2 separate regions of the Homo sapiens genome follow, and region 1 is linked to region 2. Evidence: fine-mapped expression QTL. Tissue or cell type: monocytes after interferon gamma. Region 2 holds a variant in brackets; the other region holds the start of a gene. All regions are shown on one strand. Distances are between the middles of the regions.

Region 1 (10,727 bases), 22 kb before region 2:
TCCCTCCTCAGCCTCCCAAATAGCTGGAATGGCAGGTGCAAGCCACTGTGCCCAGCTCCAAATCAGCTCTTGGTGATGTTACCAATGACCCCTATGTGGCTCAGTCCCGTTGTCCAGTGGCCTGTCCTCATATTACTTGAGCTCCCTCCTTGTTGACAGTCATGCCTTCCTCCTTGGTTTATTTTCTCCCTCAGGTTCCAGGACACTCCACTCTCAAGACTTCCCTTCTGGCCCATTGGCTCCTCTGCAGTCTTGCCCGTCCTTGGAGTCTTTAAACATTGGAGGGCTGTAGGGCTCAGTTCTGGATTCTCTTCTCCTTTCTCTCTTCACTCACTCTTTTGGTGATGGACTCCCACATCAATCAGTCTAGGTTGGATCTTATCCCTGAACTCAGACTCATATTCACCTGTCCTCTCAATATTTCCACTGGGAAGTCTACTGGGTACCTCAACACTTCCAAAACCAAATTTCTGATTCACATTCTCCTCCTGTCTCCCTATACCTGCAATTCACCTAATCTCAATACGTGGAAACCTCATCTTGGCATCTTTTCAGATCAAAAACCTTAGAGTTGGCCGGGCGCGGTGGCTCACGCCTATAATTCCAGCACTTTGGGAGGCTGAGGCGGGTGGAACACCTATGGTCAGGAGTTCAAGACCAGCCTGGCCAACATGGTGAAACCCTATTTCTACTAAAAATGCAAAAAATTAGCCAGGCGTGGTGGCGGGTACCTGTAATCCCAGCTACTCGGGAGGCAGAGGCAGGAGAATCGCTTGAACCCGGGAGGCGGAGGTTGCAGTGAGCCGAGGTCGCGCCACTGCACTCCAGGACCCTTAGAATCATTTTTGACTCCTCTCTTTCTCTTCCTCCCGACACTCAATCCATCAGCAGATTCTGTCAGCTCTACCTTCAGAATAGATTCTAACCACTTCTCACCACCTCCGCCATCACCACCCTCGTGGAAGCCACCATCACCTCTCATTCTAATGATTTTTTAATCTGTTGCTTAAATTCTTTTTTTATTGAGGTGAAATTCACATTAACAGAAAATTAACCATTTTAAAGTGAGCAATTCAGTGGCATTTAGTACGTTCATAATGTTGTGCAATCATCACCTCCATCTAGTTCCAAAACATTTCATCACCCCCCAAAGGAGACCTCACACCCATTAAACAGTGATTACCCATTCGCTCCTTCCCCCAGCCTCTGGCACCACAACACTATTTTCTGTCTCTGTGGACTTGCCTCTTCTGGACACTTCATATAAATGGAATCATACACTATGTGACCTTTTGTGTTTGTCTTCTTTCACTTAGCATCATGTTTTCAAGGTTTATTATCCATGTTGTAGCATCTATCAGCACTTCATTTCTTTTCTCTTTTTCTTTTGTTTTTGAGATGGAGTCTTGCTCTGTTGCCCAGGCTCGAGTGCAGTAGCGCGATATTGGCTTGCCGCAACCTCCGCCTCCCGGGTTCAAGCAATTCTCCTGCCTCAGCCTCCTGAGTAGCTGGGATTACAGGCATGCGCCTCCATGCCTGGCTAATTTTGTATTTTTAGTAGAGACTAATATGGTTTTGCCATGTTGGCCACGCTGGTCTCGAACGTCTGACCTCAGGTGATCCGCCTGCCCCGGCCTCCCAAAGTGCTGAGATTACAGGCATGCCACTGCACCTGGCCTTATCTGCTCATAGATTTATGGACATTTGGGTTGTTTCCACCTTTTAGCTATTGTGAATAATGCTGTTATGAACATCCATGTACAAGTATTTGAATACCAGTTTTTAATTCCCAGGTATACACCTAGGAGTGTAATTGCTGGGTCATGTGTTAATTCTGTTTAACTTTCTGAGAAACTGGCTGTTTTCCATGTCCACATTATTTTAACAGCCTAAGTTTTTTAATTTAAATTTTTATTTTTAGAGATCGGTTCTCACAGGCTGGAGTGCAGTGTCGAACTCCTGTCCTCAAACAATCCACCTGCCTCAACCTCCCGAGTAGCTAACAGCCTATTCTTAATGCAGCCACCATAATGATCATTGAAGACATGAATGAGTAGGCCAGGCGGTGGGGCTCACCCCTGTAATCCTAGTACTTTGGGAGGCTGAGGCGGGTGGATTGCTTGAACTCAGGCGTTCCAGACCAGCCTGGGTAACATGGCGAAACCTCGTCTCTACTAACAATACAAAAGTTAGCCAGGTGTGGTGGTGCATGCCTGTAATCCTGCTACTCGCGGGGTTGAGGCAGGAGGATTGCTTGAAACAGGGAGGCTGAGGTTTCAGTAAGCCGAGATGGAGCCACTGCACTCCAGCCTGGGTGACAAAGTGAGACCCTGATTCAAAAAAAAAACAAAAAAAGACATGAGTAAAATTATGTCCTCTCTGCCTAATACCTTCGATGGCTCCCACCTCACTCAGAGTAAAACAAAAGGCCTCACAAGGGCCGACAAGGCCTTATATAACCTGGTCTCAGGCATCCTCCCAGACATCATCTTCTGTCACACTCCACACACTCAATATTGATGTCTTTGCTGTTTCTTAGAAACACCAGGCATGTTCCCACTACAGGGCCTTTGTACTCACTGTCTCATCTTCTTGCAATGGTCCACCTTGGTACCCTCAAGGCTGGCTTGGCCAGGAGCGGTGGCTCACGCCTGTAATCCCATCACTTTGGGAGCCCGAGGCGGGTGGATCACATGAGCTCAGGAGTTCGAGAGCAGCCTGGCCAACATGGTGAAACCCCATCTCTACTGAAAATACAAAAATTAGCCAGGCATGGTGGCATGTGCCTGTAATCCCAGCTACTTGGGAGGCTGAGGCAGGAGAATTGCTTGAACCCAGGAGGTGGAGGTTGCAGTAAGCTGAGATCACGCCATTGCACCTCCAGTCTGGGCCACAGAGCGAGACTCCATCTCAAAAATAAATAAATAAATAAATAAAAATAAAAATAAAAAAAATAAATAGGCTGGGTGTGGTGGCTCACACCTGTAATTCCAGCACTTTGGGAGGCTGAGATAGGTGGATCACTTGAGGTCAGGAGTTCAAGACCAGCCTGGCCAACACGGTGAAACCCCATCTCTACTAAAAATACAAAAAAATTAGCCAGGCCTGGTGGCAGGCACCTGTAATCCCAGCTACTCAGGAGGCTGAGGCAGGAGAATTGCTTGACTTTGGGAGGTGGAGGGTGCAGTGAGTCAGGCGCCACTGCACTCCAGCCTGGGCGACAGAGTGAGGCTCTCTCTCCAAAATAAATAAATGAATAAATAAATTCCTGGCTCAGTCACTTGCTTCAGGTCTCTGCTCTAAATCAGCTTTTCTGAGACATCTTCCCACCCCTCTAACCCCCAGTTCCATCCACTTCACTCTGCTTTATTTTCTCTGTAGCACTTATCACCCCGGACCTGGACATTTCTTTCTTTCTTTTTTTTTTTTTTCTTTTTTTTGAGATGGAGTCTCGCTCTGTGGCCCAGTCTGGAGTGTAGTGGCCTGATCTCAGCTCACTGCAACCTCTGCCTTCCGGGTTCAAGCGATTCTCCTGCCTCAGCCTCCCAAGCAGCTGGGATTACGGGCATGCACCGCCATGCCCAACTAAGTTTTGTAGTTTTAGTAGAGACAGAATTTTGCCATGTTGGCCAGGCTGGTCTTGAACTCCTGACCTCAGGTGATCCGCCTGCCTTGGCCTCCCAAAGTGCTGGGATTACAGGCGTGAGCCACCGCGCCTGGCCTATTTCTTTACTATATGTTATTATTTGCCTTCCTTTCACTAGGGTATGAGCTTTTCCTGTTTGTTACCAGATGTTTCTACCTCCAGCACCCAGAAAAGTGCCTGGAACATAGCAGGTGCTCAATAAATGGCCTGACAAGTGAGTGAAGAAATAAGTGAAGCAATGAATTGAACTCCACTTACAGATGAAGAAAGTGAAGTTCCCAGAAGAGGCATGACTTGTGGGAGGTCTCACAGCTGGCAAGGGAAAGCCTTCAGATTCTAATCCATGTTTCCTTTTTTTTTAATTGTTATTTATTTATTAATTATTTTCTTAGAGACAGAGTCTTGCTCTGTCACTCAAGCTGGAGTGCAGGCATTTATGGGATTTAGCTGAGGGGAAGGTGAAGTGAGAATACATTTAGATTGGGTTTACAGGGATATTTTTATGTGGTTCATAGATACTTCTCGGATACTTAAACCACCTAATTAGTTGTCATGGCGTAGAAATGGCTTCCCGGAATGCTTCTGTTGTGTAAGTTACTAACTCACTAGATGCGAGGCCACAGCCTACTAAATGGCATGAATGTATCTTTTAGCGGCTCATTCCAGAAGCATCTGTGTAACAGAAATGTCAGGAATTGAAAGGAAGCCTGCGCGGTGGCTCACACCTGTAATCCCAGCATTTTGGGAGGCTGAGGTGGGAGGACTGCTTGAACTCAGGAGTTCGAGACCAGCCTGGGCAACATAGTGAAACCCCATGTGTACTAAAAATAAATTAAAAAAAAATTAGCCAGATGTGATGGCGTGTGCCTGTAGTACCAGCTACCTGGGAGGGTAAGGCAGGAGGATCACTTCAGCTCAGGAGTTCAAGGCTGCAGTGAGCCATGAACATGCCACTGCACTCCAGCCCAGCGATGAAGCGAGACCCTGTCTCAGCAAACAAAGAAACCAACAAACAAAAAATTGAAAGTATTGAGCCAGAAGTTAGTCTGTGGAAACATTTTCCAAAACATAGTTAACATGTGAATGAAACTTTATGAAAGTTTTTCTTTTTTTTTTTTTGGAGGTGGCATCTCACTCTGTTGCCCAGGCTGGCGTGCAGTGGCACGATCTTGGCTCACTGCAACCTCCGCCTCCCGAGTTCAAGTGATTCTCCTGCCTCAGCCTCCTGAGTAGCTGGGATTACAGGCGTCCGCTACTGCGCCCAGCTAATTTTTTATATTTTTAGTAGAGACAGGGTTTCACCAGGTGGTTCAGGCTGGTCTCGAACTCCTGACCTCGTGATTCCCAAAGTGCTGGGATTACAGGTGTGAGCCACCGCGCCTGGCCAGAAGTTTTTCTAGATTTCCAAAAGACTTCAATAACATCACCAATACTGATTTGTGAAGCTGAAACTTGTTCTAAATTATAATGAATTTTTAAAAAGTTCCATCAACCACGCTAGAGGAAAGATAACTTACTTTTCTCTTTGTAGACAAGGATATTGTGAAACATGCAGCTGAAAAAGTAGGAAACATCACAGAGGTGTGTCAGGCAGAAAATTAATAAAAACATTACGTTATCCTTTGGGATTTTGCAATGTTTGTGGTATTTGGCTCTTTTAAATATGTAATTTGTTATTATTTCATATTCTAAGTAAACTTTCATGTCAGTTTTTTTTTTTCTTTAAACTTTATTTTCCTTTCTTAAAGAGGTCCCTCCTCCCCCATCCCCGCGCTCAATTCCTTTAGCTGGATCCTTCCAGTTCATGACTGATCGGTTTAAAATATGGGTCGTTCAAAAGCCGTGTGAACCCGGGCTAGTGGCTATACCTCTCTGAGACTGTTTTCTTAGTGGTAAAATGGAAATCATAATAACTTTGCAGGGCTGTTATAAAGTTTAAATAAGCCAAGTCCTGCAAAATGCTTAGTGCAGGTTTGGAATGCACCAAGCGATGACAAATCTCAACCTGTCTTTATGCTGAGACCACTCCCCAGTTTCCGGAGCCGCGGCCACTATCTCCCCATGCGCATGCACACCCGGCTCTCCCTTCCAGGCCCTCCCCACCACGTGGGCGCGGCCTACCCTCCCGCAGGGGGTAATAGGTGGAGTCAAGGGGCTACTTCCGGGATTCTTTCCCTTCCACTCTGGGGAACAACCTTTTTGTATGACTGGCAGCATTATTAGCCAGTAGTGATTAGAGAAGAGCCCGACGTTAGGTGCCTCCCCCAACCCATTTGGGACAGCCTCTTCTTAGTTAGCCAATTGGAAGTTTTGGAGGGCGGGTTCTCCTCTGGGGGAGGGACAGAGTGATGGGCGTCTCTTTTGGCTAATGGAAACTTGGCTGCTGGTAAGCTGTGACCAATCAGAAGCGAGAACGCCGGATCCTGGGGCGGGGCTGGAGCTTCGTCAGTTGAACCGCTCGCGAGGAGGGTTGCTAGTGGAGAAGGTGAGAGGCCGCGGGAGTGGCGGTTGCGCGGGCCGTGGTGGAGGTCTTAGGTGGAGGGGAAGGGGCTTCTCTCGGGGGAGAGTGGGCTGCGGTGGGCAGCTGACCTGGCCTTGTAGGAATCGGGAGGGAGGGTGCCCTTTAACAAGGGTAGGCGCTTGATTGAGGGGTTGTGAGGCTGAGCGCAGCATGTGAGTTGGGGGTGATCTGTATATCGCAGGAGGGTCTTCAATGGGGAAAGTTGTAAAGCAGGAGACAGCAGATGGTAAAATATAGAGACGTCCTTGGAATGCAGCGTGGCGATTTAGTAGGAGGTTTTAAGGCAGAGGGTTATTACAGCGCACTATGCTTTACAAGCTTTGATTTGGGTGAAAGTCGTGGGAAGAAGCAATATTGAGGAAGGGAGGGAAGGAGACCTCCAGGGATGAGCATGTACTTTAAAGAGATGTGAAGCCCTATTATGCCTGTGGCGTTTGCTATGTGCTGTGCACCTGCCAAGTGTTTTAGGTGAATTAACTCTTAAACTTACTCTACTGATGGTTAAGAATGTGGGCTCTGGCGTCGGGTTGAATCCCGAATTTGAATCCTGGCTCTGCCACTGATCATTACTGTGGCTTTGGGCCAGTTGTTTAACCCTTCTGTGCCTCAGCTTCATCATCAGTAGAATGACATCATCTCTGTCTATACCATTGGCTAGCTTCACCCTCTTTATCTAATGAGAACTCCCACGTGTGTATTTCCAGCCTGGATCTCTGCCCTGAACTCCAGACTCATATCATGGCCGACTCTTCTCTCTTTGGAAGTTCATCTGACATTCAGACATAAACTTGTCCCAAACCAATCTTGCGATTTCTTCCTTTCAACCTCCAAACCCAGTTGATGGGACATTCATCCTGCCAGGTACTAAGATCAAGAAGCTTGGAGTGTTCTTTTTTTTTTTTTTTTGAGACAGAGTTTCGCTCTTGTAGCCCAGGCTGGAGTGCAATGGCGCGATCTTGGCTCACTGAAACCTCCACTTCCCAGATTCAAGGGAATTACAGGCGCCCGCCACCACACCCAGCTAATTGTTTGTATTTTTAGTAGAGAAGGGGTTTCACTATGTTGGCCAGGTTGGTCTTGAACTCGTGACCTCAGGTGATCCACCCGCCTCAGCCTCCCAAAGTGTTGGGATTACAGGCGTGAGCCACCGTGCCTGGCTAGCTTGGAGTCTTCTTCACTTCTCCCTTTTGTCTTACTTATATATGGTCTAGCAGATCGCATTAGCTCTGTCTTCAAAACACATCCAGAATCCAACCATGCCTCACCAGCTCCTTTGCTACCACTCTGGCCTCAGTTTGTCTCCTGCTCTTACCTGGTTTGTTGCAGTGGCCTTCCAGGTGGGCTCTCTGCCTCTCACTGTTAGGGGGATACTAGTAGAACAGAAGTCAGGTCAGGTTGTTTCTCCTTTCAAACCCTCTCCTGGCTCCCACATTACACTGCAAAAGTCTTCACCATATCCACGAGGCCCCAACCTATTGGGTTCCTCCTCCTCCCTCCCCTCAACTCCCATCACTTCTCTCATTCCCCTGGCTCACTCTGCTGCAGCCACCCTGGCCTCCCCGCTGTCATTTGAACATAGCGAACACATTGCCATCTCAGGGCCTTTGTACTCGCTGTCCCTGAACGCACTGCCACCTCAGGGCCTTTGTACTCGCTGTCCTGTCCTTCTGGATCAGGTCTTTTCAGGTGTCTGTGTGGCTTCTTCCACACCTCTTTCAGGTCTCCGCTCAGACGTCAGCTTCACAACCAGGCATTTGCTAAAGTACTACTCAAGCTAAAATAACTCCTGTCACTGTATGGCCCTTCACTTGGCTTTATTTTTCTTCATAACACCACTACCTGATATAGATTATTATTATTATTTTTTTTGAGATGGACTCTTGCGGGTCACCCAGGCTGGAGTGCAGTGGCGCGATCTCGGCTCACGGTAGCCTCCACCTCCTGGGTTCAAGTGATTCTCCTGCCTCAGCCTCCCAACTAGCTGGGATTACAGGTGTATGCCAGCATGCCCAGCTAATTTTTACATTTTTAGTAGAGACGGGGTTTTGCCATGTTGGCCAGGGTGGTCTCAAACTCCTGACCTCAGGTGATCCACCCACCTCAGCCTCCCAAAGTGCTGAGATTACAGGCGTGAGCCACTGCGCTGGGCCTATTATTATTTTTTGAGATAGAGTCTCTCTCTGTCACCCAGGCTGGAGTGCAGTGGCCTCATCTCAGCTCACTACAACCTACGCCTCCCAAGTTCAAGTGATTCTCCTGTTTCAGCCTCCCAAGTAGCTGGAACTACAGGCATATGCCACCACGCCTGGCTAATTTTTGTAATTTTAGCAGAGATGGGGTTTCACCATCTTGGCCAGGCTGGTTTCGAACTCCTGACCTCAAGTGATCTGCCCACCTCAGCCTCCCAAAGTGCTGAGATTACAGGCGTGAGTCACTGTGCCCGGTCCTCACATCAATTACTGTTGGTTTATATCCACTGGGCTTCTTGGACCTCCCCACTAGAGTGTTTGACTCCATGTGAATATGGAACCCAGCACCTAGAAGAGCACATGGTGTTTAAAAAGTGTTGCTTCTCCTATACTGTCCTCACCACCCTTTGGGGTCTCCCTGTGGTATGGGGCAGGGTTGCTGAACTAGGAGGGTCATGTGTGGGGTGGTAGGGTCGGAGGTGGGGGAATAAACTGGGCAGATTGTGGCGCCCAAGGGCAGAAGGAACCTTTAGTGTCTGAAGGAACTTGGAGGAAATGCAGATTTCTGGGCCCACCCCCAGAGTTTCTGCTTGTGTATAGTTGGGACCCGACCTAGGAAGCTGCATTTTCATAAGCACTTGTGGTAAGGATTATGTTCCTTGGCCATCACTGTGAGAAACACTGTTAGGCTGGTTCAGAGTTTGCTGGGGCCACTGTGGTGATTGAGACAGCTCCTGACCCAGCCTGGGAGTCAGGGAGGGCTTCCTGCAGGAGAGGGGATTGGAGCTGAGACCTGGAGGATGACAGGGAATGAGCCGAGGGGAGAAAACCTTGGCTGTATCCCCAGTGTCTAGAACCCCATTCCCTGGCATCTCCCGTTAAATTCACAAGCAGTCCCTGAAGATACAAGATTGATTAAAATGGCTCTGCCCTCACGGGCTCCTGGTCTGTCAAATAATCAACAGATCACACAGATGGTAACAGGGAGTGCCAGCCACTGTTTGAAGCACCTTATATACACTAAATAATTTAGTTCAACAACAACCCTATAAGGTAGGAGCTCTTATTATCCCGCTTTACTGATGGGGGAAGGCCCAGAGAGGGCAAGTACTTTGCCCAAGGACACACCAAGGAGAAAGGCAGCTGGAATCTGAACCCAGAAGTACCCAGCCTGCAGCATGTGCCATGCTTAAGGTGTGAGGCCGCATTTGGGTTAGTTCTGGGAGGAAACAGGAGGTGGTCAGGGAAGGTCAGCTGGGTAAGGGGAAGGAAGACGAATGTTTCTGTCTTTCATGGTGGGATCCTAGACAAGCCTCAGTTTCATCCTCTGTATAATGGGGATGGTTATAATACCCACCAGAGAGCAGAATTTAGGGTGAGTCATTCATTGGGTTAATAAGTGTGCATGGTCCTTATCTAAGGCAAAAGTTTGCCTTTGAGAGACAGTGGGAGAGGGAGTTGATGCCCCAGGGGGAACTGGGGTGCCGCAGTGTGCACCGTAGAGATTTCATTGCTTGGTTCCCCAGAGGGCTTCTCTGTCTCTACAGTCTATGGGGACAATGTGGAAGGCTTTGGTCTGTATTCTGGGGCAGTGAAGGGGGGGTTCTATCCAGCCTCAATTCACCCACGTGGTGGGGAGGTGAGGTCAGAATGGGGTCGGGAAGGGGGTCATCCAGGCCAGGCCACGCGTGTGAATGTGGGGCGGAGGGCTGCTGCAGGAGAGAGCCCATCTAGGGTATGGCTGGGCTGGAATATGTGTTGGCGGTGGTGGGGAGCTGCAGAGTGTGGGGAAACAGCCATCAGGTGTGGGCTGCCAAGGGCAGTGATTTGCCCGTGTCTGGTATGGGAGGTAGTGATGTAGATTTGTCTTTGGTGAGCCCAGCGTGGAGAGTTTTCAGCTCCGGCCCCGGGGTAAGAGCTGTGAAATCTGTGAGCTATCTGGGGAGAGCCATTTGGAAGGTGGAGCCAGGGGTGGTGATGTAACGCTGGAAAGGAAAGGGGTCATCCTAGTGAATGATGAGAGGGAGAGAGCTGGGGGCTGAAACACTGGGTGTAAGTGTGCCAGCGCCATGATGTCATGAGGCCCGAGAAGTGGGTCAGGTGTGTGGGCCAGGATGGGGCCTGGAGGGCAGCCGCACAGTGCTCGCAGGGATGGGGTGGTGACGTCATGGGTTGGTGAGGGCGGGGCCTCGAAGGCACCGCTGGGATGCGTGAGGTCAGGAAGGAGGCAGAGGCTGAGAAGAGGAACTGGGAGAGGCTCAGGACTGGAATGAAATCAGCCACCAGGATGAGCCACTGGTCATTCCGAAGCAAGGATGGAGGATGCAGGTAGAGGGACAGGGTCAGCGGCGGGAGGGGAGAGGGGGCTCAG
Region 2 (10,727 bases):
ATCTCTTTTAATTTATATCCCCCTCTCCACTTTTCATGCTACTTATTTGTGGAAGAAATCAGGTTATTTGTCCTGTAGAGTTTTGCAGTCTAGATTTTGCTGAATTTTTCCCTAGCAAGCATACTCAGATGGAAAAATGAAAAATAGATTTTGCTGATTATATCGCCATGGTGTGTTTAATGTCCTTCTCTGTCCCCTGTACTTGCAGTGAAGTGGTGGCTAACCCTATATAGGTTTAATCACATGTGGGGTAGGTTTTGGCAAGATGCCTCCTTTGGTGGTGTTGAGACTGATGATTTCAGCTGTTGAGAGCTGGCTCCCTCTTTTATAAAGTTCTCTTCGGCCTTTCAACCAATGCAGTGGTTCACTCTGGATATGCACTCAAATTGCCCGGGAGCTTTGAAAAATCTCAGTGCCCTGGCTGCCCTGTACATTCACCATTTCTTTTTCTTTTTTTGAGACCGAGTCTCGCACTGTCACCCAGGCTGGAGTGCAATGGCGTGATCTCTGCTCACTGCAACCTCTGCCTCCTGGGTTCAAGCGATTCTCCTGCCTCAGCCTCCTGAGCAGCTGGGATTACAGGTGTGTGCCACCACACCCGGCTGATTTTTGCATTTTTAGTAGAGACGGGGTTTCACCGTGTTGGCCAGGCTGATCTCGAACTCTCGACCTGTCTCAAGTGATCCACCTGTCTCAGACTCCCAGAGTGTTGGAATTACAGGTGTAAGCCACCGTGCCTGGCCTATTTTTCTTTTTTTAAAAATTTTGTGAGCAGTGAGGAGTTCCAGGGCAGGCCCTGACTCCTCCAGACACACCACTTACACCTGAATCTCTGGGATGGGACCCGTCCCTCCTGCCCAAGAGTCCCACTGCTTCCACTACTTAACTTTCTTGTTGTGAAAAATAATATACTCCAAAGAGTATAAAATATAAATGTACGGTTTCACAAATTATCATAAAGCCAGCGTACATGTAACAACTACCCAGGTTAAAAAATTGAGGCTGGGCTCAGTGGCTCACGCCTATAATCCCAGCACTTTGGGAGGCCGAGGCGGGTGGAACACCTGAGGTCAGGAGTTCAAGACCAGCCTGGCCAACATGATGAAACCCTGTCTCTACTAAAAATACAAAAATTTAGCTGGGCAGGGTGGCGCATGCCTGTAGCCCCAGCTACTCGGGAGGCTGAGACAGGAGAATCACTTGAACCCAGGAGGCAGAGGTTGCAGTGAGCCGAGATCACGCCACTGCACTCCAGCCTGGGTGACAGAGGGAGACTCTATGTGGAAAAAAAAAAAAGGAGAAAAAAATCAAAAGTAGTCATTTCCCCATAGCCTCCGTATGTCTTTTTCCGGGAGAGACCCTCCTGCCCCAACCATGCTCCCAAATGCACCAGATCTCACTCACTTGATTTGCTTATGGTTTTGCCAGCTGAACTATGCATCCCTAAACAATATAGTTTAGTTGTATCTCTTTTTGCACTTAATTTAATTTTTTTTTTTTTTTTAAGAGACAGAGTCTTGCCCTGTCACCCAGGCTAGAGTGCAGTAGTGCAGTCATGGCTCACTGTCAACTCAGACTCCTGGGTTCAGACAACCTTCCTGCCTCAGCCTTCCCAGTAGCTGGGACTACAGGCACATGGCACCATGCCAAGCTATTTTTTTTTTTTGAGACAAAGTCTTGTTCTGTCCCCCAAGCTGGAGTGCAGTGGTGCAATGTCAGCTCACTGCAATCTCTGCCTTCTGCCTCCTGGGCTCAAGCGATTCTCCTGCCTCAGCCTCCTGAGTAGCTGGGATTACAGGTGCCCCCCACCAGACCTGGCTAATTTTTTTTTTGAATTTTTAGTAGAGAGGGGGTTTCACCATATTGGCCAGGCTGGTCTTGAACTCATGACCTCAGGTGATCTGCCTGCCTTGGCCTCCCAAAGTGCTGGGATGACAGGCATGAGCCACTGTACCTGGCTGCAAGCTAATTTTTGTAGAGATGGGGATTTACCTTGTTGCCCAGGCATGTCTCAAACTCTTGGGCTCAAGGTATCTGTCCGCCTTGGCCTCCCAAAGTGCTGGGATTACAAGTGTGAGCCACCACACTTGACCTACTTATATGTCTTTTCTTGTGATGAAAATCTTAGTTTCTAGGGATAATAACATATTTATTTGCTTTATCTTAAACAATACCAGTGTAATTACTAATAATTGAATTTTGAATGAAGTTTAACATTTCCAGGGCCGGGTGCGGTGGCTCACGCCTGTAATCCCAGCACATTGGGAGGCTGAGGCGGGCAGATCATGAGGTCAGGAGTTTGAGACCATCTTGGCCAACATGGTGAAACCCCGTCTCTACTAAACATACAAAAATTAGCCAGGGTTGGTGGTGGGCGCCTGTAATCCTAGCTACTTGGGGGCTGAGGCAGGAGAATCGCTTCAACCCGGGAGGCAGAGGTTGCAGTGAGCCAAGATCGTGCCACTGCACTCCAGCCTGGGTGACAGAGCAAGACTCCGTCTCAGAAAAAAAAAAAAAAAGATTTCTTTGCAGTTCTTTTTGGCCTTAGGCTATATCCCGCTTGCTCAAACGATGTGTTTTAGTCACCTCCTATAATTCTCCAATGTGCCACCAACTTTGATATAGAGTTAGGTCTGTTTGGGCCAGTTTCTTTTAAAATTTTTGTGATGGCATTTGTTAAAATTTAATTAATTAATTTGTATAAAATATTTTTATAGTTCCAAAACTGAAAAAGAGGGTACATTCAGAGAGGTCCAATTTCTTACATTTTTTAAAAAATTATTTTTACTTCTGGTTTTCTTATTTTTTTGAGATGTGATCCACCTGCCTCGGCCTCCCAAAGTGCTGAGATTACAGGCATGAGCCACTTTGTCCAGCCAGAGAAGTCCAATTTCTGTTCATTTTCCCCTTCCCCATAAATAATCCTTTTTTCCCCCATAGATTTTGGTTTATTCTGTAATTTTGAAAATATAAACATATAATTTATAATTCTCATTTCTTTTATGAAAAGGGACATTCTGAACATACTGTCTGCACCGCACTGTGTCACAGCAGTCACTCGGTGACAGGACACAGAGATACTCTACTTTCCTCTTTATAGTTTTGTGGGACTCAATTGAGTAGATGTATTAGAAATTCAATTAGTTCTCTTTTAACATACATTTTGGTTATTTCCACTCTTTTGCTATTACAGATTGTGCTGCAATGAATAGCCTTGTGTATACATTTTCTCAAGGAAGGGTTTTGAGCATGGTAGTTACCTGATCAAATTTGTATTGTAGAGGATTTCGTGACTGGGAGACTGGCCTGGCGAGGTGGGAGGAGGAGGGAGGCAGTGCTAGGCTTTCAGGGTGTGTACAGATTGATGAAATCGTTTAGAATTGGAACTCACATGGCTGTGTTCCCACTCCTTCACCCGCACCAGGGGGAGGAGTGTGTGTGTGTGTCCTGTGCGTGGTGGGGTCATGTCCTCTTCGTGAGGTGCATGGGGGTGATGTGACCACATCCCTCCTCACACGTCGCAGGGGATATGATAGGACCCTGCCCCTCCCCATGGGGTCAGTTGAGACTGATGAGCCGTGTACCCCCTTCCGGGGAGGTGAAATGATGAGGCGTCCCACCCCCATGGAGTAGTGGGAATGGGGCCATGCCTCTCTCTCCAGCGCTCTCTCCGCGTCTTCCCCAGGGTGTCGCGCCTGGCGTCCGAGAAGCGGGAGCTGGAGGCGCAGCTGGGCCGATCGCGCGAGGAGGCGCTGGCCGGGCGCGCGGCACGCCAGGAGGCCGAGGCGCTGCGCGGGCTGGTGCGCGGGCTGGAGCTGGAGCTGCGGCAGGAGCGCGGCCTCGGGCACAGGGTGGCCGGCCGTCGCGGCCAGGACTGCCGCCGTCTGGCCAAGGAGGTGAGCAGCGGGGGCCCGGGGCGGCCAGCGAGGCGCGGACCTCGGCCTCAGCCTGGACCTCCGCGCCCCTCTCCCCTCCCGGCAGCTCGAGGAGGCGAAGGCATCGGAGCGGAGCCTGCGCGCCCGGCTGAAGACGCTGACCAGCGAGCTGGCATTGTACAAGAGGGGGTGAGAGCGAGGCCTGCCAGGCGCCTGGGCGGATGGGCGGGCCCTGAGGGTGTGGAGGCTGATGAGGCGGAGCCTAAGGGGGCGGGGCGGGGCCAGGTAGGGTGGAGGGGGCGGGGCTGAAGGGGAGGCGGGGCTTAGCGGACCCCGTCTGGAGTCCAGACAGGATTTGGGTGCAGTGGTTAGGAGGTGGACCCGGGCTGTGCGGAGATGCGCAGGCTTGGGGCGGCGTTCAGGAGGGACTGGGAAAGGGATCGTGCCCTAGGGTCTCCTGGTGCGAAAGGGTGCGGCGCAGCAGGTGGGATCAGGGTGAGGTCCGCTGGCATTTATGGGGTGGGTGGTGGAAAATTGGAAAGAGTTTCCGGGGAGTTGTGGAAGACTCCGGAAAGAAGGGTCTGTTGAAGGCGGTGTGTTGAAAGGATGTAGGGGAATGACAGAGGGGTGTTTTAGGGGTCCAATTGGGTGAGGTCTGGGGGGGAAGATATCGAGAGGGTCATGGGCCCAGGAGTGCACGTCTAGGAGTTGATGGGGTAGGCCTGAGGGTTCGGAGAAGGTGCGGTCGGGGAGGAGTCTCGCGATTGAGTTTGTCGGGGCGGGCGGGAAGCTGACAGCTGCCTCTGTGGTCTCAGGAGGCGGACTCCGCCGGTGCAGCCGCCCCCGACGCGGGAGGACCGGGCCTCATCGTCCCGGGAGCGCTCCGCGTCGCGAGGCCGCGGCGCCGCGCGCTCCTCATCCCGGGAGAGCGGCCGCGGGAGCCGGGGTCGGGGCCGCCCTGCGCGCCCCTCGCCCTCGCCCACAGGTCTGTGCCCCTGCCCTGCGGTAGGGAGGGGACGCACTGGCGCTGCCAAGGCCCGTCTCCGGACCTAGCCGCCTCCTCTCCCACGCCGTCCTAGGTGGTCGCGCGCTCCGCTTCGACCCCACGGCCTTTGTGAAAGCCAAGGAAAGGAAGCAGAGAGAGATCCAGATGAAGTCAGTGCCCCTTCCTCCCTCACCTGCCCCTGTCCCTGGCCCGTGCCCGCTCCCGGGCTCTCATCTCTCCACGCCACCATCAGTCTCCATCCCCTGCCACCTGCTCGCTTCTCGCCGGATACCCCGCCTGCTCTCCCTTCCGTCCGTCCTACCTCCTCGTCTGTGTTTCTGCGTGCTTTCCGCTCGTAGGCCTGTCACCTCAGGCTTTCGCTGGCGTGGCTGTGACCTTTAGGGGCGCAGTGACCCCCTTGCCTGCAGGAGTTGGGCGTACAGACCGGCGTCTCCTTTCTTTTTTCCCAGGCAGCAGCAGCGGAACCGCTTAGGCAGTGGGGGAAGCGGGGACGGTCCGTCCGTCTCCTGGTCTCGCCAGACCC[A/G]GCCCCCTGCTGCCTTGACTGGCCGAGGGGACGCCCCTAACCGCTCCCGAAACCGCAGCTCCTCAGGTAACTGGCCTGGAGCTGGGGGCTGCCGGGCTAGGCGGGACTGGGCGGGGCTGGGCGGGCTGGGAGGCACTGGGCAGGGCGGGCGGGCTGGGAGGGCCTGGGAAGCACTGGGCGGGGCCAGCGAGGGCCAGCGGTCACGCCCTCCGTCTCCCTCTAGTGGACAGTTTCCGCAGCCGCTGCTCGTCTGCCAGCTCCTGCAGCGATTTGGAGGATTTCTCTGAGTCGCTCTCCAGAGGGTAAAACTTGAACTTGGGAAAAGGATCGCCTCCAAAGGGTTTCTGGGGAGACTAGAAACAGTCTTTTGCAGGGAAATTGGGTGATGGAGCCTGGGGGCCTTGAAACCACAAAGGTCGGGGAGGTGGGAAGTACCAGAGCCTCCCCACCACTGGTCCTTGGTTACTCCTTTTTCTCAGGGGTCACCGCCGCCGTGGGAAGCCTCCCAGCCCAACGCCCTGGAGTGGGTCCAATATGGTGAGTAGAAGGGGCAACATAAACCACTGGAACACAGCTGCCCCCATTTCCTGTGATTCCTTCCTGGGGATCAGGTGCAGAGGCGACTCTGAATGCCTTTGGCAATAGGGCTTTTTTAAGAGTGCGTCTCGCTCTTTCAGGCTGGGGTGCAGTGGGGCAATTGTAGCTCACGGCAGCTTTCAACTCCTGGACTCAAGAGACCCTCCCACCTCGGCCTATGGAGTAGCTGGGACTAGGCTTTTTTGGGGGGGCAGGGTGGGGTTGAGACAGGATAAGGGGGTGGTATTGTCTCTTTATGTTGCCCAGGCTGGTCTGGAACTCCTGGCCTCAAGCCATCCTCAGCCTCCTACAGCGCTGGAGTTACAGGCTGGGCCAGCGCACCTGGCCTGGGAACAGCACGTTTTGAGAGCATTAGATTGGAGAAGGAATAATGAGGGGCACGTGATGCTCTTTAGGGCTTTGGCTTCTGACTGTCAGGTCTTGAAACCTGTCTCCTCCTCTTCCCAGCTGTATGGTTCAAGGCAGTTCTTTAGCCTCTCTGTACCTTAGTTTTTGTTTATCAGTTAACCAGGGTTGGTAATGGCATCACCTCACATGTGAGGTGAGGGCTCTGTGAGGACATTAGGAGGTTATTTTGCAGATAATGAATGGCCAGTAGGTGTCAGGCCTTATTTTTCCCCAAGGTCCTTAGGCTCAGGATTTCCAGTGGGATTTAGGGGGACAGAAATAGAGGGACGGTGGGTGACCCCCTTTCCTACCTTCCCCATCACCAGAAGTCTCCCCCCGTGGAACGCAGCCACCATCAGAAATCTCTGGCCAACTCCGGGGGCTGGGTCCCCATCAAAGGTGAGCCTGGGACTCCACATCCCCTCTCCCAGCCCCAGGACCCGTTGGAATGGTAGTGCGGGCAGTGGTATATTGGGCCCAGGAACTCCCTGGGGCTTCAGGCCCCTCACAGCCCCCATACCCACACCTGCTCTCACAGAGTACAGCTCGGAGCACCAGGCGGCTGACATGGCCGAAATAGACGCACGCCTGAAGGCCTTGCAGGAGTACATGAACCGACTGGACATGCGGTCATAACGTGGAGAAGGGGTACTACCCCTCCATCCCCCACCCACTTGCTGGGTATGGTGTGGGGGGTGGGGCCAGGGTGGCCTCCAGCCCTGCCCAGTCCCTGCCCTGGCCCCGTCCCTCCTGCTGCCCCTGGGGTCTCAGGTGTGTGAGGCCCTGACCCTGCCCTCTCCCCAGGCAGTGCATGCTGGGAGGGAGGATGTGTGCATTTTGTAAATAAACATATTTGCCCTGGGGACCCCTCAGCTTATGACTAAAGGGTGAGGGTGGAGTGGGGAGAAATGTGGAGGAAGAGAAATTGGGGGGTATAATTGGGACCTGTGTGTCTGTGCCTCGGAGGCAGATTGGGACTCAGGCCTAGGAAAAGCTTGTACACTCTCTAAACAGTGCAAGGGCAGACCTGGGAGGAGTAGTGAGCAGCCCGTCCCTAAAGGAGTCCAAGCAAAGTTTCTGCGCAGGATGCCTTTGGCTGTGTGGTGGGAAGGAGGTGTCTTGCAGCGTGGTTCACTGCCCAGGAGGACCCCCAGGACCCACTGTTGGTGACATCCCGGCCGCCTTGGTGCTGATTCCTGGGCTCTGACCTGAGACCTCTGGGTTCTGAGCTGTGATGTTGCTCTCGAGCTGGGATCTCCGGGGTCTTGGTTCAGGGCCGGGGCCTCTGGGTTCCAAGCACCAGTGAGGAGAGTGCTGGGAGGGGAAGGGGTGGGAGGGCTTTGGTCTTGTGGGAGGGAGAGAAGGAGGGGAGGTGTGTGGTGGGACCTGCTGAGGAACACATTTTGAGCTACATCTTTATTGGAGAAGGAGACAGTGGGGTTTTTGGCCATGGGAGGGGAGGAATGGGGTGCGGATCAGCAGGGCCTCAGGGGGAGCGGTAGTGTGGCCAATTCTGGATGAGGTGGTAGAGCTGGTTGCCTGGAGAGAGTGTACGCTGCACATCCCGGTGTCCTTTGAGCACATAGTTGGACCTCAGGGCTCCCTGAGCCACACCGCAGGCCAGTAGACCCTGGGCTGCCCGGATGGCCTGGGGTGTGGGCACCCGATCTGGAGGAGGCAGAGGTAGGAGTCAGGCAGGGGCTTCCCCGAAGGGGAAGTGATAGCGTAGGGCCCCGTGTCAGCCCCCATCCCAACTGGCTGGACAGTCACTCACCCATGTAGTTGCCCATGAAGCTGATGCCAATGGACATGGGGTTCCATAAGTGACCTGAGTGGGCACCCGTGAAGTTCCAGCCACGGCCCTCGTATACGAGCCCGTCTTCTCCAATCAGGAAGCTGCATGGGGAGGTGGGGGGGCTTGATGAGTGAGGGAGGGTTTCCCGAGGAGGACTCCTCCTCCTTCCTCCACTCACCCTGCCTCCGTTACTGCCGTGGTGCACACAACTTCCCCAGCATCCTTCTCACCCGTTAATTTCCCACGATAGTAACAATGACTGTGGTCATTTATTGGGCCCCTGCCATGTGCCAAGCACAGCTCTGCATACACCTTTTTCCATCCTCACAGCAACCCTGTGAGTCACTATCACCCCCGTTTTATATAGACAGAATCAGAGCGGTAGAATCACCTGCCCCGGGGTCACACAGCCTGTCTGGGGCACAGCTGGGGTTTTTAACCAGGCCTCCATGGTCCCCACCCATGTGATCTTGTGCGTTGCTCTCTCCTGCCTCCCTAGAGGATTTGTGGAAGTCCTGTTTTACTGAATCCTTGCAGGACAGCCCTCTGAGGCAGAGACTTTTTTTTTTTTTTTTTTTTAAGACGGGGTTTCACTCTTGTTGCTCAGGCTGGAGTGCAGTGGCGTGATCTCAGCTCACCGCAACCTCTGCCTCCTGGGTTCAAGTGATTCTCGTGCCTCAGCCTCCTGAGTACCTGGGATTACAAGCATGAGCCACCACACCCGGCTAATTTTTGTATTATTAGTAGAGATGGGGTTTCACCATGTTGGCCAGGCTGGTCTCGAACTCCCGACCTCAGGTGATCTGCCCGCCTTTGGCCTCCCAAAGTGCTGGGATTACAAGCATGAGTCACCGTGCCCAGCCAAGGCAGGGACTCTTATCATCCTCATCTTAAGCAGAGAGAGCAGAGACTCAGAAAGCGACATAATTTGTACAAGCTACTCAGAGCCCCCTGCCTCTCAGAACTCTGCCTTTGCCCCAGCTTGCTTCCTGCCCTCGGGGTCCACTGGGGGACAGGATCACAGACTCAAAGTTGGGGTCGTAACCAGATACCGACCCTGGAGCCCCAGCACCTGCCTCTTTGAGGTTCCCAAGCCTGGCAGCAGATCCTTAAGGCTGATTCATTCAGCACATCTGATTGAGCGTGTCTGACTTGGCAAATGGGAATGAACTAGAAGATCAGTGCCTTGGAGCTGCAGTATGTGCCAACTCAGCCCCCGCGCTCACAGTGTCATTAATGACGCACAGAATGTCGGAACTTCCGAATCTTGAGTCCCGAATCTGCTGCTTAGGAAGCCAGCTCCCAGAATCTGGCCCCAGTGATGCTGGCTGCTGGGACTGGCTGGTTATGGCCCTGCTGGTGATGCTGGCTGCTGGGACTGGCTGGTTATGGCCCTGCCATATTCCCGGAGCCTGGCATGATGGTGCTGGGGTCGGGGGTGGTTGGTTCTCCCTGGTCATTTGTTGCATGAATGCATCTCATTGAAACCTCAGCCACCATCGCCAAGCGGGTACAGTCAGAAGCCCCATTTACAGGTGAAGAAACGAGGCTCAGAGAGAGAAGGTGACGTGACATGGAAAGGGGATTCAGAACGTTAGAACCAGATTCGGAATCCTAAAAGCTGAGGGCCAGACAGCGGCTGCTTCTGTATGTGGTGATGTGGACCCGAGGCTCGGGCCTTCGTGACCTCATGGGAACACTTAGGATCAGAGCGCCTGAGTCTTGGAAACAAAATGTTGAAGTTGGAGTCTTTGATAAAATCTTGAACTGGAAGGGCTGGGAATACCTTTGGACACTTCTAGACTTCTCTGGGTGGGTTTTGTGTGTGTGTGTGTGTGAGACACAGCCTTAGGAGGTCCTGAGAACATGTGTCCCCTGGGTGGGGTCTATTGAAGTGGTCTCTGGGGACCTGCATGTTCCTCCAATAAGCTCTGCAGGAGATTCTGATGCTTACCTGGGTCTGAGAGCCTGCAGGATTGAAAGTTCCCTCCCTGTGGAAACCGTCAGGCTGGACTGCAGCCCATTCTAAGGAGGAGGTAGCTGGTAGGCGTGGCCCCGGACCTGCTTCAGCCTGCTTCAGCCGGCACCCCTTACAGTCTGTTCTCCCCACAGCAGCCAGAGGGAGTCTCTTGTACCTACACTAGCCCTGGTCCCTGCTCTGCGGGGGGAAGCCTCCCATGGCTCCCATCTCGGAGTAAAAGCTACAGTCCTCACTGTGGTCCACAAAGCCCTGCCTGGTCCTGCCCTTTCCTCATTTCATTCCGCTCGCCCGGCTGTGTTCAGCCACCCTGTCCTTCCCACAGGACCCGCCCACTCAACCCCGTTGGCTTTGCCCCCAGCACCCCCTGCCACCTGCAGGCCTCTGTCTGCTCCCCCATCCCAGAGCCAAGGCAGCCACTCTCAGGGAGGCTTTCCCTTGCCCCACCCTTCCAAGGAGCCTGTGTGGGTCTGGTCCCAGCCTGAGGTCACCCTCCCTCACCTCTTTCCTTTTATCCATCGCCTCTATCACCGTCTGAATTCACCTGTGGCCTTGGCTTGTTTCTC

Alleles and levels. Positions count from the first base shown, and alleles are read on the strand shown. Sizes are in standard deviations (SD) of each study's normalised expression.
In carriers of allele A in region 2, the expression in monocytes after interferon gamma of the gene that starts at base 6,094 in region 1 tends to be lower than with G alone (small effect, 0.36 SD a copy in Fairfax 2014).

Evidence for each region. PIP is the estimated chance that this variant, and not a neighbour inherited with it, causes the effect.
Region 1: it holds the start of CCDC61, and the variant in region 2 is fine-mapped to the expression of CCDC61 in monocytes after interferon gamma (Fairfax 2014, PIP 0.93).

What each region holds. Positions count from the first base shown.
Region 1 is chr19:45,989,374-46,000,100 of GRCh38, forward strand. CCDC61 (coiled-coil domain containing 61) reads left to right here and starts at 6,094. Exons shown (of 14, transcript NM_001267723.2): 1 at 6,094-6,131. RefSeq lists enhancers at 5,452-5,641, 6,032-6,211.
Region 2 is chr19:46,011,364-46,022,090 of GRCh38, forward strand. CCDC61 (coiled-coil domain containing 61) reads left to right here. Exons shown (of 14, transcript NM_001267723.2): 6 at 3,686-3,896; 7 at 3,982-4,064; 8 at 4,691-4,860; 9 at 4,955-5,030; 10 at 5,331-5,470; 11 at 5,628-5,706; 12 at 5,884-5,941; 13 at 6,715-6,787; 14 at 6,927-7,253. The coding sequence ends at 7,024. PGLYRP1 (peptidoglycan recognition protein 1) reads right to left here. Exons shown (of 3, transcript NM_005091.3): 2 at 8,163-8,284; 3 at 7,790-8,056. The coding sequence ends at 7,875. It overlaps MIR769 (microRNA 769), which reads left to right and starts at 7,569; the gene lies at 7,569-7,686. RefSeq lists silencers at 3,928-4,222, 4,690-4,769, 5,500-5,559 and an enhancer at 10,298-10,727. The variant A/G (reference allele first, on the strand shown) is at 5,405.